Linked DNA regions of Homo sapiens: region 1 is linked to region 2. The links come from fine-mapping of genetic effects on plasma protein levels. Region 2 holds a variant in brackets. A gene starts in the other region. All regions are shown on their forward strands.

What was found. PIP is the posterior inclusion probability: the model's chance that the variant is causal. Protein levels are from antibody-based Olink assays in UK Biobank. Linkage for the fine-mapping came from a reference panel and not from the study's own genotypes, which makes the PIPs less certain.
Region 1: it holds the start of MFAP4, and the variant in region 2 is fine-mapped to the plasma level of the MFAP4 protein (UK Biobank, PIP above 0.99).

Annotation. Positions count from the first base shown.
Region 1 is chr17:19,384,366-19,392,858 of GRCh38, forward strand. MFAP4 (microfibril associated protein 4) reads right to left here and starts at 2,825. Exons shown (of 6, transcript NM_002404.3): 1 at 2,785-2,825; 2 at 2,395-2,473; 3 at 1,945-2,099; 4 at 993-1,089; 5 at 734-916; 6 at 1-344. The coding sequence starts at 2,790. The coding sequence ends at 97. RefSeq lists enhancers at 1,113-1,658, 1,659-2,204, 2,205-2,750, 6,741-7,654.
Region 2 is chr3:52,507,071-52,513,782 of GRCh38, forward strand. It overlaps STAB1 (stabilin 1), which reads left to right. Exons shown (of 69, transcript NM_015136.3): 19 at 543-605; 20 at 861-956; 21 at 1,203-1,289; 22 at 2,140-2,251; 23 at 2,800-2,986; 24 at 3,072-3,165; 25 at 3,279-3,437; 26 at 4,580-4,675; 27 at 5,271-5,366; 28 at 5,526-5,573; 29 at 5,758-5,888; 30 at 6,060-6,171; 31 at 6,647-6,712. Among named protein-coding and RNA genes, the nearest start is that of STAB1, 15 kb to the left of the region's middle. RefSeq lists an enhancer at 1-502. The variant T/C (reference allele first, on the strand shown) is at 1,833.

The DNA of each region.
Region 1 (8,493 bases), not on the chromosome of region 2:
GGAATCAGCAGAAGCATGCATCAGGGGCAGCAGAGGGAGCACTCATGGAGACCATGGGTGTCCAGGGGAGGAAAGGTGCCTGAGGGGGCCAGCCCTTCAGGCCCGGCGGATTTTCATCTCAGTGCGTTTGAGGGAGTAGTAGAAGCCCTTCCACTGGGCCCAGTTGATGCCATTGGCATAAGAGAGGTGGGAGCCACCTAGGTAGAAGCCATTGAGGTTGGCAAAGTGGCAGCTGCGGAACCAGAAGGCTCCTGAGGAGAGAGCTGCGCAGTTCTGCACAAAGAGGTCCTGGTCCCGGTCGAAGGTAGAGAACTTCTGGCCACTGTGGTAGGACAGGGAGTCACCTGGCAGAGGAGAGAAGGGTTGGGGCTGCTGAGGCAGGGAACTGAGCCCCGAGCTGGCCGGGAGAGGGTGACAATGACGACTGTGAGAGATATCACGTGGCAGCCTGGCGGGATGGGGGCACCCTCCCTGAGCCAGATGTTGGGTTGATGTGCTTCTGCAATGAAGAGAAACAGCTGCTCCACCACAGAGTTGCCTGGAGCAGGGCCAGGATGGCTGCTCCCCAGGGCTGAGGCCCAAGCTGGTTTGAGCTTGTTTGGAGCCAGCTGTGGCCCTTCCAGATCCAGAAGGGTTGAAGGAGGGGCCTGAAGGAGGTTGGGGCTGACTGGGCAGGGCCAGCCCTGCCTTCTTTCCCCTCACAGCCCCTCCCAAAGCTAACAGCGGGTTATACCTGCCCCGCCATCCTCAAAGCCTGCCACAAAGAGGGTGTAGCCATCCTCCTCTGCGCTGACCGCGTTCGGGGAGATGGAGAAGTCAGCGTACTTGGCATAGGCCGTGTTGTTCTCAAAGTCCTCCAAGTCCACTCGCAGCTCATACTTCTGCTTCAGTGTCAGGAGGTGCATGTTCTGCAGCCCTGGGGAGGAGGGGCAGCTGGTCAACAAGGACCTGGCCCTGGGGCAGCCCCTCAGCCCACCTGGTCCCTGCCTTACCCAGCCAGTACTCTCCATCAGCACGGCCGAAGCCCAGCTTGTAGTCATTCCAGCCGCGGAAGAAACTTACTGAGCCATTGAATCTCTTCTGGAAAACCTGGAGCAGAGAAGATGAGACTGGATCATCAAGGGTCCAATGGGCAAGGTTCTGGTCCTGCCCTGCCCACCTCAAGCATGGACCCTGTGATGCTGTGGCCAGTTTGTTAAAGGACTGGGTTGGGGGTGGGGAGGGTGGTGGGAGTGGGGTTGCTAAAACAACGTCCACATTGGCACCAGGCCCCCTGTGGAGCAGTTGCCAGCACCCACCTGGGCTCTTCATACCCAGTTTCGTATAGAGGCAGGAAAGAGGCTAAGAGGGAGGCGTTCTAGAGTTCGAGTGCCTAGCTGTGGGATCTGGGCAAGTTACTTCACCTCTCTGGGCTTTAGTTCCTCACTACTTCCCAGGATTATTGTGAGGCTTATGTGCATTAACCTACCTCAGCTGGGCGCGGTGGCTCACGCCTGTTATCTCAGCACTTTGGGAGGCTGAGGCGGGCGGATCACCTGAGGTCAGGAGTTCAAGGCCAGCTTGGCCAACATGGTGAAACCTCATCTCTACTAAAAATAAAAAAATTAGCTGGGCATGGTGGCACATGCCTGTAATCCCAGCTACTCGGGAGCCTGAGGCAGGAGAATCTTTTGAACCTGGGAGGTGGAGTTTCCAGCAGTGAGCTGAGATGGAGCCACTGCACTCAAGCCTGGATGACAGAGTGAGGCTCCGCCTCAAAACAAACAAACAAACACCTACCTCAGGCACTTAGAATTAAGCGTTGGCAGCTGCTCAGAAGCTGTGCTGTGGGTATCATTATCCCCATTTTAAAGATGAAGAAACTGAGGTTCGCATATGTGAAGCCCAGGGTCACAGGGCTGGGATTAGAACCAGCTCTGGCCTCTGTTCCCTCCTCCCACTCACCGTCCACTTCCCGCCCTCGGTGGTCATGTCACAGAAGACGGGCACAGGCACACTGGGGCCCGAGGGGTAGATGAGGTACACGCCGTCTGACTGGTAGCCCTGGGCATAGATGTCGTCACAGTCCAGGGGTTGCTGAAGGCAAAACCTCTCCAGAGCTGGGGGTAGGGACATGGGGACAGTGAGGAGAGTGGGACTATGGCATCACTGACACCTCAGCACCCCAAGGTTTGCCTCAGTCCCTGGGGCTGGGGGACTTTGACACAAGGAGTCATGGAAGATTTCTTCAAGGGAGATGAGCAATGCTTATGTCATCCATCTGCCCCATTTTGTAAAGGAGGAACCTGAGTCCTGCAGAGCTGGGGCTCGGCCCTGACAGTCTGTTCTGACAGTCCAGCCTCTTCTTGCACAACCTGTGGGCCAGGCCGCGTCTGTGAGTGTGGGGCTGCTTACCATCTCCTCGGATCCCGGAGACCTGGGGGGCACACGGGGGCGTGGAGAGAAGCAGCAGCAGCGGCAGGGCCAGGAGTGCCTGGCGATGGGCAGACAGGGTCAGCACAGCCCCTTCCCAGCTCCAGAGATCCCCTGTTCTCTTTGCATTTGCCCCCACCATGCATGCACATACTGCCCTTGCCTGAATCCCTCTCCTGCTATTTGGCCCCTCTTCCCTGCCCCCCCACCCCGCCCGCCAAGTAACCCCACTCTCTGGGACGCTGTGTACCCTCATAGCTTACGAGTTTCAAGAGAACTCCTTGTGCCTTCATAGTGCCCTCTGTGGCCAGGGGCCTCTGGAGTGGGCTCAGTTCCCCCATGCTATGAGTCCCCCGACCCTGGGCCCCGTACCTTCATGCTGTCAGTTCTGCTCAGAGTGGCTGGGTGTCTGCGGCCCCAGACTGCAACCGCCCAGAGTTATGCGCTGGGCCCCCGCCAGCCGCCCCAGCCCCGCCCCCCTTCCCGTAGCTGCAGAACCCCCCTCTCCCCACCCCAGACAACCAGCATCAGTTTACACTATCAGGGGGCTGGGAGGTGGGGCTGGAGCCAGGGGACCACCTGTGTCTCATTAGTCCTGTCGGGCAAAGTACTGCAGACGTTAACTCCCTGCTGGCTCCAACTGTTCCCTGGATCCCACTCCATCCGCTATCCGCCATCTGCCACCCACCCTGCTAGACCTGTGGGCCCCCTGGCGCCCCCAGGCAGCCCCAGCCCGCCGCAGCCTGCCCCCTACTTCCTGATGGGCCCCCCTGCAGATGTCTGTTTATTCTTTCCCCTCCTTCCCTGGCCTGTGTTTCATCAGCCATTGAGGGGGAGGGCTGAGGGAGAGTGGGGGTGTCATATGCCTGGCTTCTGGGGACGGGAGGCCTGCTCTGGGGGAGCAGAAGGCTGAGGGGACAGTTTCAGAGCTCCTGATGTGGGAGCCTGGCTGGGGCTGGTGGGGGGACAGAGGCAGCAGTTTCTTGGCAGGCCTGGGACATTTCTGAGCCATGAGCACAAGGCTGCTGGCGTCCAACTGCTCTGTCTGCCCCAGCTCAGGCCAGGGCCCCTCTCCAGTCCCCCTCCCCAGCCCCCCTCACTCTGGCCACCTCAGGCCCACTCTTTTCCCCTCCCACAGTTCCCTGGCCCATCTGGCTCACATGCAATAGGTATGGGACCTCTTTTGTTTCTCCTCACTCCACCCCTCCTTTCTTCTTCCAAACCCTTCACTTTGGCTCCCACACCTCCCAGATTCATCTGAATCTCCCTACTTCTGGGCTCTCTCCTCCTATCCTTGGCACACTACCAGGAGAGTTGTTCTAGATGGCCTCTCAGATTATGTCACCCTGCTTAAAGCCTCATGGCTCCCTATTGCCTCAGGGCTGAGGCTAGGTTTCTCACCTTGGACATGAAAGGAATTTCAAGTCTGTCTCTGGCCTACCTTGAGGACCTTGTCCCTTATTGCTGTGACTCATAAACTACAGTGCAGCCACTCCAGACTTTTCACCATGGAGGTCCCCACTCTTTTGTGCTGCTCCTTGTGGTGCCCGCTCATCTGCCTCCTTTTGTTGGCCATAAGGGCCAGTGAGCAGGGTGTGTGTCTCATTTCTGCATGCTCAGTGCCCATCACAGAGCCTGGCACAGAGTAGGCTTGATATGTACATGCACAGTCACTTACGTATTTATATCTATATATAGATAAGATACTAGAGTCAGGGCCTTGCCCTGTTGCCCAAGTGCAATCATAGCTCACTGCAGCCTCAAGCTCCTGGGCTCAAGTGATCCTCCCACCTCAGCCTCCTAAGGAGCTAGGACTACAGGTGTGCCACCACACCCAGCTAATTTTTTAATTTTTTTGTAGAGATGGGGGGGGTCTCCCTATGTTGCCCAGGCTGGTCTTGAACTGGCCTCAAATGTTCTTCCCACCTTAGTCTCCCAAGAAGCTGGGACTACAGGGCCAGCACACCTGGCTCACAGATATCTTTTGAGCGCTGTGTGCTATAGGCTATGCTGGCTGCTGAGGATACAGTATCTGCCCCACAAGGAGTGGCAAGCACAGGTTTTGGACAGTGAATTGCAAATGTAAGGTGTATTACAAAAGGACATTTGTGTTGAATGGATGAACAGATGAAATATTCAAAGGCAAAGTGATGAGGCAGCTCTGGCTTAGGTCCCATCTCTCCACTCCTGAGTCAATAGATAAGCCCCTTGGCAAAGCCCCAGTTGGCCTCCCTGACTTGGTTCTGTGATTGCCTCTATTCATAGTTGTGTCTTGTGTCAGGCTACCTCAGTTCAAATCTAGATTCTGTTGCCTGTTAGCTGGGTGACCTTGCAAAAATTACCTAGTCTCTCTGTGCCTTGGTTTCCTCCTCTGTAAAATGAGGATAGTCATAGTATCTACTTCATAGGGGTGTGGTAAGGATTAAGTAATACATATCAAGTTCCTAAAACAGTGCCTACAAATGGCAGCTATTTAGTAAATATTAGCTATCGTCATCGTCATCATAAACATCATGATTCTCATATGAATGGGTTGTCTTCAACACAGCTTGTATGCTTGCCTGTGGAAGAGACAGTTGGCTGGCTCTCAATACTCGTTCTTCCCTTAGTCCTCAGTAGTAAGATCCTGATTTTTATCTGGGCTCATTGTCCAGCCTCCCTTGTAGCTAGGTGAGGTCACACATCTGAATTTTGGCCAACAAGATGCCAACAGGTATGTTGTAAAGGTAGGTGGCTTGTCCCTCTTCATCCTGCCCTCTGTCCTGCTGGATGTGATGGCTGGAGCTCTAGCTGCCACCTTGGACAGTGGGGATGAGGAAGATGAGGCCTCATCAGGGAATGGCAGAGGAGGAACTGGCAAAGCCTCTCACGACTTTGTGGAGTCGGTACAAAAACAGCCCTGGACTGCCCTCCTCTAGGCCTTTTTTATGCAGGAGAGAAAGAAACTTCTATGTATTTTAAGTGTCTGTTGTTTTTTTTTCTGTTACACACAGCTGAATCTAATCCTGATCTCTTCTTTCAGCAAATGCCAGCTAATTTTAACACAAGTCTATAAAAGGGAAAATAATGAAAAAAAATCAGTTATCAAAACAAATACTAAAATGGTCCAAAGTCAAGTATTGAAGACTTTTGGAGAATACCACTAATGAGCAAACATAGAAACTCCTTCTCCCCCTAGAAAAGAGAGAATTAAGATACGAGGTATCAATTACATTTTGCCAATTAGTTTTTACTTAAAAAATGCAATAATGTGTGTGGGTGCAGCAAAGCAGGCACTGTGTTCACTGGATGTGGCTGGAAATTAGTTTAACTTTTGTGGTAAAGAAATTTGGTAATAACATGCCCAGAGTCGGTAATCCTTCTAAGGTGTTGTCTGGAGGAAATACTCTGACATGTTGAAGAGGCTACAGATACAGCTGGGGGACATTACTTGTTGGCTGCCCAGCATGGGAAACCTCTTCCCACATTTGGGGTGTTCCTCTCCTAACTAGAATGCTGGGTGTTCACATTTCCAGGGTTCCTTGCAGTTTGATTGAAGGCACATGGCCTTGGTTTAGCTGATAAAATGCACGGTCCTGGGCTTCATTTTGGGAGAAAGTGATTTGAGAAGCAGAAGCAGGAAGAATCCATTCCTGGGGCGATGGTGACCCCAGTGCTGTCTGGGTCCTAGTTTCTCTGGGTGGTTGGTGGTGGCTTGGCAAGCACAGTGCTGAGTGACACTGGCTTAGGCTTAGGCTGCAAAGCCCTGAGCTTGGTTCTCAGCCCTCCCAGTGATCAGTTTGCTCTGCCTGCTGATGTTTTTGAAAGAGACCCCCAACTCACATGCATAAAGATGTTTGTGTCTAGATTCTGTCATTGCCAACAACAGACACTAACTCTGACTTTGTTGGGAGGCTTTGCTGGGAGTCTAGACTAGGGGTGGGTGGGAGCTGAGGCTGCCCTGGGCTCTGGAAAGCAGGCCCTCAGTGGGGGTCCTGTGGTGGGACAATGTTGGGTTGATGCTGCTCAATGCACATGGCTATGGCTTTGTCTGTCTGCCAGATTCCAGGAGTGAGGAGGGTCCATCCCATTGGCCTTGCTTGGGTAATTTTATGCATCCCTTGGCAAGGGGAGTGCAGTTGGACACCTTTCATTTGCCTCCCCACCTTTCTCCCTACTGCCCTGGGCCCCGGAAGGCCAGCCTCACCCTCTGGTTTCTGATTGGGTCCAGCCAATGAGGAGCTTATCAGGATTCAGCGGGAAGGAGAATGAAGTAGGAATATTCATTCCCCTCCTTGTAGAGTCCCCACACACTGGTTTTGTTTCTCAGCCAACAGTCTCAAGTCCTGCCAGGTAGCCATCTCCATACAGCCTCCTGACTCACTGTGGGTGACTCCTTCCTCCTCTGCCCGCTTCAGGTCTAGGGGTGTTGACAGCCCTGGTGTTACCAGCCCAGAGATAGGGGGCCATCTCCTGCTTACACCTCAGCAAATAGTCCTTTTATTAAATGCTACTCAAATTGTCCTAACCTGAGTGTTACTTGATGGAAACTGGACTGATTCAGGGAGAGAGGCATCCCTGACTATAATACAGAAAACGAGTGTGAGACTAGGAGGAGAAGTGGCTGCAAGTGTACAAAAAAGTCTCCACTAAATACCCTCTGTAATAGTCATTGTAATGTATGCTGTAATATTGTCAAACCCAGATGGCTCAGTAAAAACAGATGACCCCCTGTGCTTCCTCGATGTCATTTTGGTAAGACATTTGCTCAAGTTGGTATGGCTTCCGCCCCTGGGTTAGGCCTGTGCTGGTTGTTCTCTGCGTTCCCTGATCCACCCACATCCTCCTCTGTGCCTGGTGTGGGGGCTGCCCTGTAGGGAGGACATCGCTGGGTTTCCATGGCCCCTGGCTTCCAGCTGGGTTTGACTAATGGGAGACACCAGCAGGAGATGGGAGAAGAGAGAGGTTGAAGTATTTCTCCCAGCTCCTGTCCTGATGAGCACTGCAGTTTTGGCCGTAGCTGTGCCCGCTGTCCCTCCCGCCCCTCCCCCCCACCTCCTGATGACATCTCCTGCCATAACCTCCCTCACTGTCTCCAGTAACCCTGTTTCCTCCCCTTGCCCCTTAGGCTGGGATGATGAGGGCTGTCATCCTTGCTAGCCCCAGGATGCCTCAATGCCCCATGTTGGTTTTCTTAATGTTCACACCCAAGTAAATAGTCCCTTCATTAAATTCTCTGAATTAAAAAAAAAAAACCCAAACAGCTGAGTTCACCCTTTGTTTCCTGAGAGGACCCTGACTGACTCAAGGTCTTACTTTGGTTTCCTCTAAAAGCACAGCAGCCTGTGGAGTGGAGCATTTTCTGTTGTTTTGGACAACAGCTAAGGACAAGACCCCTATTCTCTCTGCAGGTGCAGACACCTCCCTGTGTGTCTTGCTGGCAGGCAGCTAGACTGCTCCTTTATCCACCCTCCTGTATCCGGAGCTAGAGAAGCCTGAGGAGAGTTTTTGAAGGAAACTCATCAAAGCAGAGAGCACCTAGGGAGAAGAGATGGTGGGTCCCCCCAACCCAGGCCAAGCAAAGGGGCTCCAAGAAAGAGGAGCTGTGTGCCAGAAGGACAGACTTGGGTTGACAGGCTGAGCTGCCCAAACCCAAGGGCCCTTTCCCAGAGGCCGCTGCTGCAGCAAAGTGAGAACGACTGTTTGGAAGACGGGTGAAGCCTAGGGCTACCCGAGTTGGAGAGGAGAGGGGGCAGGGGCTCGCACAGTCATCATTTGGCAGGACACAGATGTGGTGTTCCGAGTGGGTGCTGTGGAATATGAGGTCAGATTGGAATCAGGCCCATCCTCGTAACCTCATTTTACCTTAACTACCTCTTTAAAGGCTGTATCTCCAAATATAGTTGCATTCCAAGGTAGTGCATGGTACAGCTTCAGTGTGAATGTTGGGGTACACGATTCATCCCATAACAAGCATCTTAGAAGCACCAGGCACTCTTTAACCCTTTATAGGCAACCGTGCACAAGACAGAATCTCCAGCCCTCCTGGAGCTACAGAAGAGAAAGAAAAGTAAAGTGAAATGATAAGTACTATGAAAAATG
Region 2 (6,712 bases):
GTCTTGCTCTGTCGCCTAGGCTGGAGTGCAGTGGCACAATCCCAACTCACTGTAGCCTCCGCATCCTGGGTTCAAGCGATTCTCCTGCCTCAGCCTCCCGAGTAGCTGGGATTACAGGTGTCCGCCAACATGCCTGGCTAATTTTTGTATTTTTAGTAGAGATGGGATTTCACCATGTTGGCCAGGCTGGTTTCAAACCTCTGACCTCAGGTGATCCGCCCACCTCGGCCTCCCAAAGTGCTGGGATTACAGGCATGAGCCACTGAGCCTGGCCTGAGATAACTCTTGCATCCTCCACCGCTCCATCCCCTTTCACTCACTCTGTGCCTGCCTCTGGCCTCTCTGCTGTTTTCCAGAGACTCTAGCTCTGCCCGGCTCGGGGCCTCTGCCCCTGCTCTCCTCTGCCTGGAATGCCAGTGCTGGGCTTCCTGTGGTTGGCTCTTCTCATCCCTTAATCCCCACTCAATGTTCCCTTCTCTGGGTTTGCCGAGTAAATAAACAATGACTAACCCCTCTCCCCATCCTGCCCCTGCCCTGCCCAGGGCTCCTGTGTGGACTGCCAAGCCCTGAACACCAGCACGTGTCCCCCCAACAGTGTGAAGCTGGTGAGCACACCTTGGCCCAGCTCTCAGGGCCTCCTGACTGCCTGTTGAGGTTTCTGCCCTGGGTCACAGGGGTGGGTGGGGGAAGCAGAGGCTGGGAGGCTAGATCACACCTGGAGGCTAAGTGCTTCGCAGCCCCACTGGACCAGGGTTAGAGTTCTGGACCCAGGGGGCAGAGGTCCCTTAACCAGGGCTGCCTAGCAAAGGGGCTGGCCCAGAACCCACACCCACTGACTGGCTTTGCATGGCCCACCCTAGGACATCTTCCCCAAGGAGTGTGTCTACATCCATGACCCAACGGGGCTCAATGTGCTAAAGAAGGGCTGTGCCAGCTACTGCAACCAAACCATCATGGTAAGCGTGGGCATGGGTGCCCACTCCCAGGTCACCTGGGCACCTGCTGTTCCTCGGGGGCCCCCAAGCTGGGGCTGAGTGGGCTCCCTCCCTCAGAGGATGCACTGCAGCCTGACGGTGGAAAAGGGGTCCCAGAGAAACCTTATCCACTCCGTCACTCTGGAGATGGGGCCAGGGAGCAGAGGCAGCCTGGGCAGGGAGGGCATGGACCCAGATGGCCTCTTGGACCTGTTCTGTCTCTTATAGGAACAAGGCTGCTGCAAAGGTTTTTTCGGGCCTGACTGCACGCAGTGTCCTGGGGGCTTCTCCAACCCCTGCTATGGCAAAGGCAATGTGAGTCCCATCCTCTCCTGGGGTGAGGTATGGGGAACACAAGGACTCCTTCACCGGTTGGCCAGTGACTGGCTGTGTGTCTGGGCCAAGCCTGCCACTCTGGCCTTGGGATTCTCATATCTATGCAGTGGAAAGTTGGATCAAATTATTTCTCATATTTTAATTAAAAATAATTAGAGAGGCCAGGTGCAATGTCTCATGCCTGTAATCCCAGCACTTTGAGACGCTGAGGCGGGCAGATCACTTGAGGTCAGGAGTTCAAGACCAGCCTGGTCAACATGGCAAAACCCTGTCTGTACTAAAAATACAAAAATTAGCCTGGTGTTATGGCACACACCTGTAATCCCAGCTACTCAGGAGGCTGAGGCAGGAAAATCACTTGAACCTGGGAGGCGGAGGTTGCAGTGAGCCAAGATTGCACCACTGCACTCCAGCCTGGGCAACAGAGTGAGATTCCATCCCAAAATAACAATAATAATAATAATAATAATAATAGATAGATAGATAGATTTTTTGGCATTTATTTCCAAAAAGGCTACTTGG[T/C]GGTTTTCTTTTGTGTTCTGTTTTTACCACTTTGTAATATCACGGTTACTTTAGCACCTGGCTATAGAAGAACACAGGAGTTATGTGTTTCTGCATCCAGCAAATGTTGCTCATAAAGCCTCCAGGGCCAGGTGCCTTTTAGGGGCTAGGTCTTTGGCGGCATCAGTGATTTTGAAGATCCCTTCCAGGATGAGCTCTCACGGGTAGCAAGAGCTCAGAGCCAGCCCATGAAAGGAGGGGGTGTTGGGAGAGGGGATGTAGAGAGTCCCTTTCCCATGACTGATCCTGCCTTCTGCTCACTCTCTAGTGCAGTGATGGGATCCAGGGCAATGGGGCCTGCCTCTGCTTCCCAGACTACAAGGGCATCGCCTGCCACATCTGCTCGAACCCAAACAAGCATGGAGAGCAATGCCAGGAAGGTGGGTGGTCCTGGCTCAGGCCACCTCCTAGGGAGAAAAAACGTCTGCCTAAAGATGGGTCTGGGGGCTCTCAAGAAGGGAAACGAAGCCCCAGGAGGAGGGACGAAGGCCAAGGGGAGTGGAGGAAGATTTGCCTAAAAATGGGTCTGGGGGCTCTCAAGAAGGGAAACGAAGCCCCAGGAGGAGGGACGAAGGCCAAGGGGAGTGGAGGAAGATTTGAGAACAGAAAGGAGATGCTGTCTGCTTCACCCAGGCCAGGAAGGGAACTGTGGCTTAAAGTATGCGGGACTTAGGTCAGACACACTGAAGAACTTCCTGATGGTGGTGTTGGGATCAGGGCAACTAGAATGGGATAATTGAAAGCTCAGAATGCCCCCCTCACATTTCATCTGCCTGCCCATTGAGTCTGAGATAACCTCTGATTTTTCCACCCTGAAGTCAAATCTGTACTGGCTGCCCCACTCCCTATATCCCCCAAACCCATCCTGGCTCCCAGCCAGCCCTGCCTCCTGCTTCTCAGTTTCCTTGCTCCCATCTACTCCATACAGACTGCGGCTGTGTCCATGGTCTCTGCGACAACCGCCCAGGCAGTGGGGGGGTGTGCCAGCAGGGCACGTGTGCCCCTGGCTTCAGTGGCCGGTTCTGCAACGAGTCCATGGGGGACTGTGGGCCCACAGGGCTGGCCCAGCACTGCCACCTGCATGCCCGCTGTGTTAGCCAGGAGGGTGTTGCCAGGTGAGGACCCACACCTTCTGTCTGCCCCACCCGTGACCTTTCATACCTGAGGCTCACTGGAGCCCCCTCCTTCACCCACCCCCAGATGTCGCTGTCTTGATGGCTTTGAGGGTGATGGCTTCTCCTGCACACCTAGCAACCCCTGCTCCCACCCGGACCGTGGAGGCTGCTCAGAGAATGTCAGTCCCCTTGCTCCTTCCCTGAAGTTCTGACCCAGAGGCAGGAGGTGGGATGCCCTGGCCCTCTGCCTACGTTCTTGTGTCCCTCAGTTATTTATCCATGGCTCTCACAGGCTGAGTGTGTCCCTGGGTCCCTGGGCACCCACCACTGCACATGCCACAAAGGCTGGAGTGGGGATGGCCGCGTCTGTGTGGCTATTGACGAGTGTGAGCTGGACATGAGAGGTGGCTGCCACACCGATGCCCTCTGCAGCTATGTGGGCCCCGGGCAGGTGAGGTGCAGCAGAGAAGGGGTGGGGGCCTTGGTTCTGGGGGACTCTCTCCCTGCCCCATCTGACTCCTGGAATGCAGAGTCAGGTGCTCAGGGTCTGGAGCCTCAGGTGCAGATGAGAACCCAGTGCTGACATGCTGAGTAGTAGCATCTGGGATTCGCTCCTTCATCCATTGGCTCATTGCTTTCCCAGGTGTTTTCAGGCACCTATTCCATGCTAGTCCGTGTTCTAGATGTAGGGAATGTGATACTGAGCAAAGCAGGAAAAGCCCCTGCCCGTGGGAGTGACCTCCCCAAAACTTTAGCCTCATGGAAATCCAGCCCCGGAGCTTTGCAGTGTCTGAATCTAGTCACGGGAGCTCGGAACCTGGAGCCTTCCATGTGGAGCATTTCAGGACTGGTGAACCAGTGTTTGGACAGGCATTGAAGACTGTCTAACGCGCCAAGTGGGAGGCCAGGCCTGGCTGGTCAGGGTCAGCCTCTGCATGGCCAGGCCTGTGGGGCTCCCTGTCCTCCCAACTCCAAGGTGGCCTCTGGGCACCAGCACGTGGGGCCTTAGCAGTAAGAACTGACAGGTGTAAGAGCTGGAGCTCCAAACCCCATTAGGGCCTTAATTCAGAACAGAGGTGTTGAATGAGCCAGTGAGATGCTCCCAACGTGCAAACAAGGGCACCTGAGAGCTGAGGGGTCTCGCTGGTCACTCACCTGCAGTGTAGACAAGCCCAGGGACACTGGCATTTGGTTGGGGGATTAGAGCAGCTGAGTAGGGTGGCAGGGGTGGAGGTGGGATCTAAGCCACTATCCTGGGGCTGGCCTTGGCAGGTACCTACACACTTGCCACAAGCTGTTGGCCTCAATGGCCCTGGCAGGGCCCCAGGCTCCAAGTGCAGGAGCACCAAGTCTCCACGGATGCTTCTCTGCAAATGCTCTCACCTCCGTGGACTCATCCTGAGAGCCAGTCTCCCCTTAGGGCCTCTGTCTCCCCATCTGGAGCACAGATCTCTGAGAGGAGGGCTGGGAGAAGTTCCTCTGGGGTCTGGGCAGACCTCCCTGGGGGCAGTGACCAGAGAGAGCCAAGTAATGGAGGAAGAAAGGGTTGGATGCTCATCATGAGACAAGGCCGTCTGTTCCTAACCTTTCCAGAGCCGATGCACCTGCAAGCTGGGCTTTGCCGGGGATGGCTACCAGTGCAGCCCCATCGACCCCTGCCGGGCAGGCAATGGCGGCTGCCACGGCCTGGTAAGGGGGTGCAAGGCTCAGAGCCCTGGGGAAGCTTTCTGGGGTGAGCCTGGGCTGCAGCTCTCTCCCTCCCTCCCCATCTCTGGGTGTCTCTCTGTACCCCCTCAGGATTAAGATCTTTCTAAACTTCAAATCCAACCATGTCACTCCTCTCCCCCTTCACCCGCCCCTGCCCAGCCTCGTCTCTCTGTTCCACTCCTGCCCCACTTCCACTGTCCTTGGCTACGCTGAGCTCCTCACCATCCCCTGCCCTTGCTCCACTGTACCACACTCCTGCTTCTGCAAGCTGCACCTGGGCCTGGCTAGCTCCTCCTGCTCTCAGCTCTGGCTCCTGGGGATACGGGCCTCCTGGGTCCTCCCACAGCCCTGAGCTCCCTCGCATCCACCTGGCATGGGTAATGCTTGTGTCAAATGCCCAGTGTCCTGGAGAGCAGGGCTAGGCACACCGAAGGAGTGCCACCAACACAGACTGGGTGGCTGCAGAGCAAGGGGCAGGGGCTGGGGCTGGGTGGCTGGACAGGCAGAAAGATGGGGGAGGGAGGGGCCCAGCTGCCATCTGGTTCTGAATGGAGGCCCTTTCTCACTCCCACCCCAGGCCACCTGCCGGGCAGTGGGGGGAGGTCAGCGGGTCTGCACGTGCCCCCCTGGCTTTGGGGGTGATGGCTTCAGCTGTTATGGAGACATCTTCCGGGTAAGGGGTGCTCAGACTCGTTTTCTGTCTTCCCCGTGCTTGGGAAGGAGCCCTCTCCAGCACCTCAGGTGGGAAAGGGGCACTGCTCAGGATCCATGGTGGGGAAGGGGCTTGAATTTGCCCCTGGTCCTGTGACCTCAGACTTTTCCCTTCCCTTAGGAGCTGGAGGCAAATGCCCACTTCTCCATCTTCTACCAATGGCTTAAGGTAGGACAGGGCAGAATGCTGGGGTTGAGGGCTCAAATCCAGGAGGCCTGCCTGGATGGAGGGGTGCCATATAACATCTCCAAGCGTGGGAGGTTGGGGGCAGGGCTGGAGCCTAGAGCAGGGGATCTGAAGATGATGGCTGCCTTCCTCGCTCCTCCCGCCCCTGCTCCCTGTGTGCGTGCAGAGTGCCGGCATCACGCTTCCTGCCGACCGCCGAGTCACAGCCCTGGTGCCCTCCGAGGCTGCAGTCCGTCAGCTGAGCCCCGAGGACCGAGCTTTCTGGCTGCAGCCAAGGACGCTGCCGAACCTGGTCAGGTGGGGCCGCCATTGCCAGGCTGTGGGAGGGGCTTCCTTGAGGGACCCAGTCCCTCCCCAGCGAGTCCTCAGCCTGGCAGGCACTCACCCCTTGGGGTGGGCCCAGCCCCAAAGGTCTCTGTAAGTTACACTAACCTGATTCCATGACCCCCCTAAACTGTGCCCTGTCAGGGCCCATTTTCTCCAGGGTGCCCTCTTCGAGGAGGAGCTGGCCCGGCTGGGTGGGCAGGAAGTGGCCACCCTGAACCCCACCACACGCTGGGAGATTCGCAACATTAGTGGGGTATGTGGTGAACTCTGGGCAGAAAAGGGGACCAGGTAGGGCATGGGAGGGAGCCTGAGTGGCTGCAGGCTCTCCCACATCAGGGGCCCCATGGGATGAGATTGGGGTCCCCTCGCCCTGCCCAGAGCCGGGCTCAAAGGATGTGCTCAGGACGCATTGCTGATGGACACTGAGTCGCTGGGCCAGGAGTGACTGCCTGCAGGGGCTCTCTGTCCATCTCAGTCTGCACATGCACACCCGCCCCTGTCACCACGGGCCCTGGGGAGGGTCTGTGTGCCCAGCTGGTGGGTCCTGAGTCTGACTCAGGATCAGAGTCAGCTCCTGGGAGGAGCTTCTGTGCAGAACCCAGCTTGTGGGCCAGCCTGCGGACCACCTGTGGGTGCCTGTGTGCCTGGCAGTCTCTCTGTTGGGGCTGCCCCACCTTTAAGGGTCTATCTGTGCCCACCTGTGGCTAAGCTCTGCTGCTGCCTTCCAGAGGGTCTGGGTGCAGAATGCCAGCGTGGATGTGGCTGACCTCCTTGCCACCAACGGTGTCCTACAC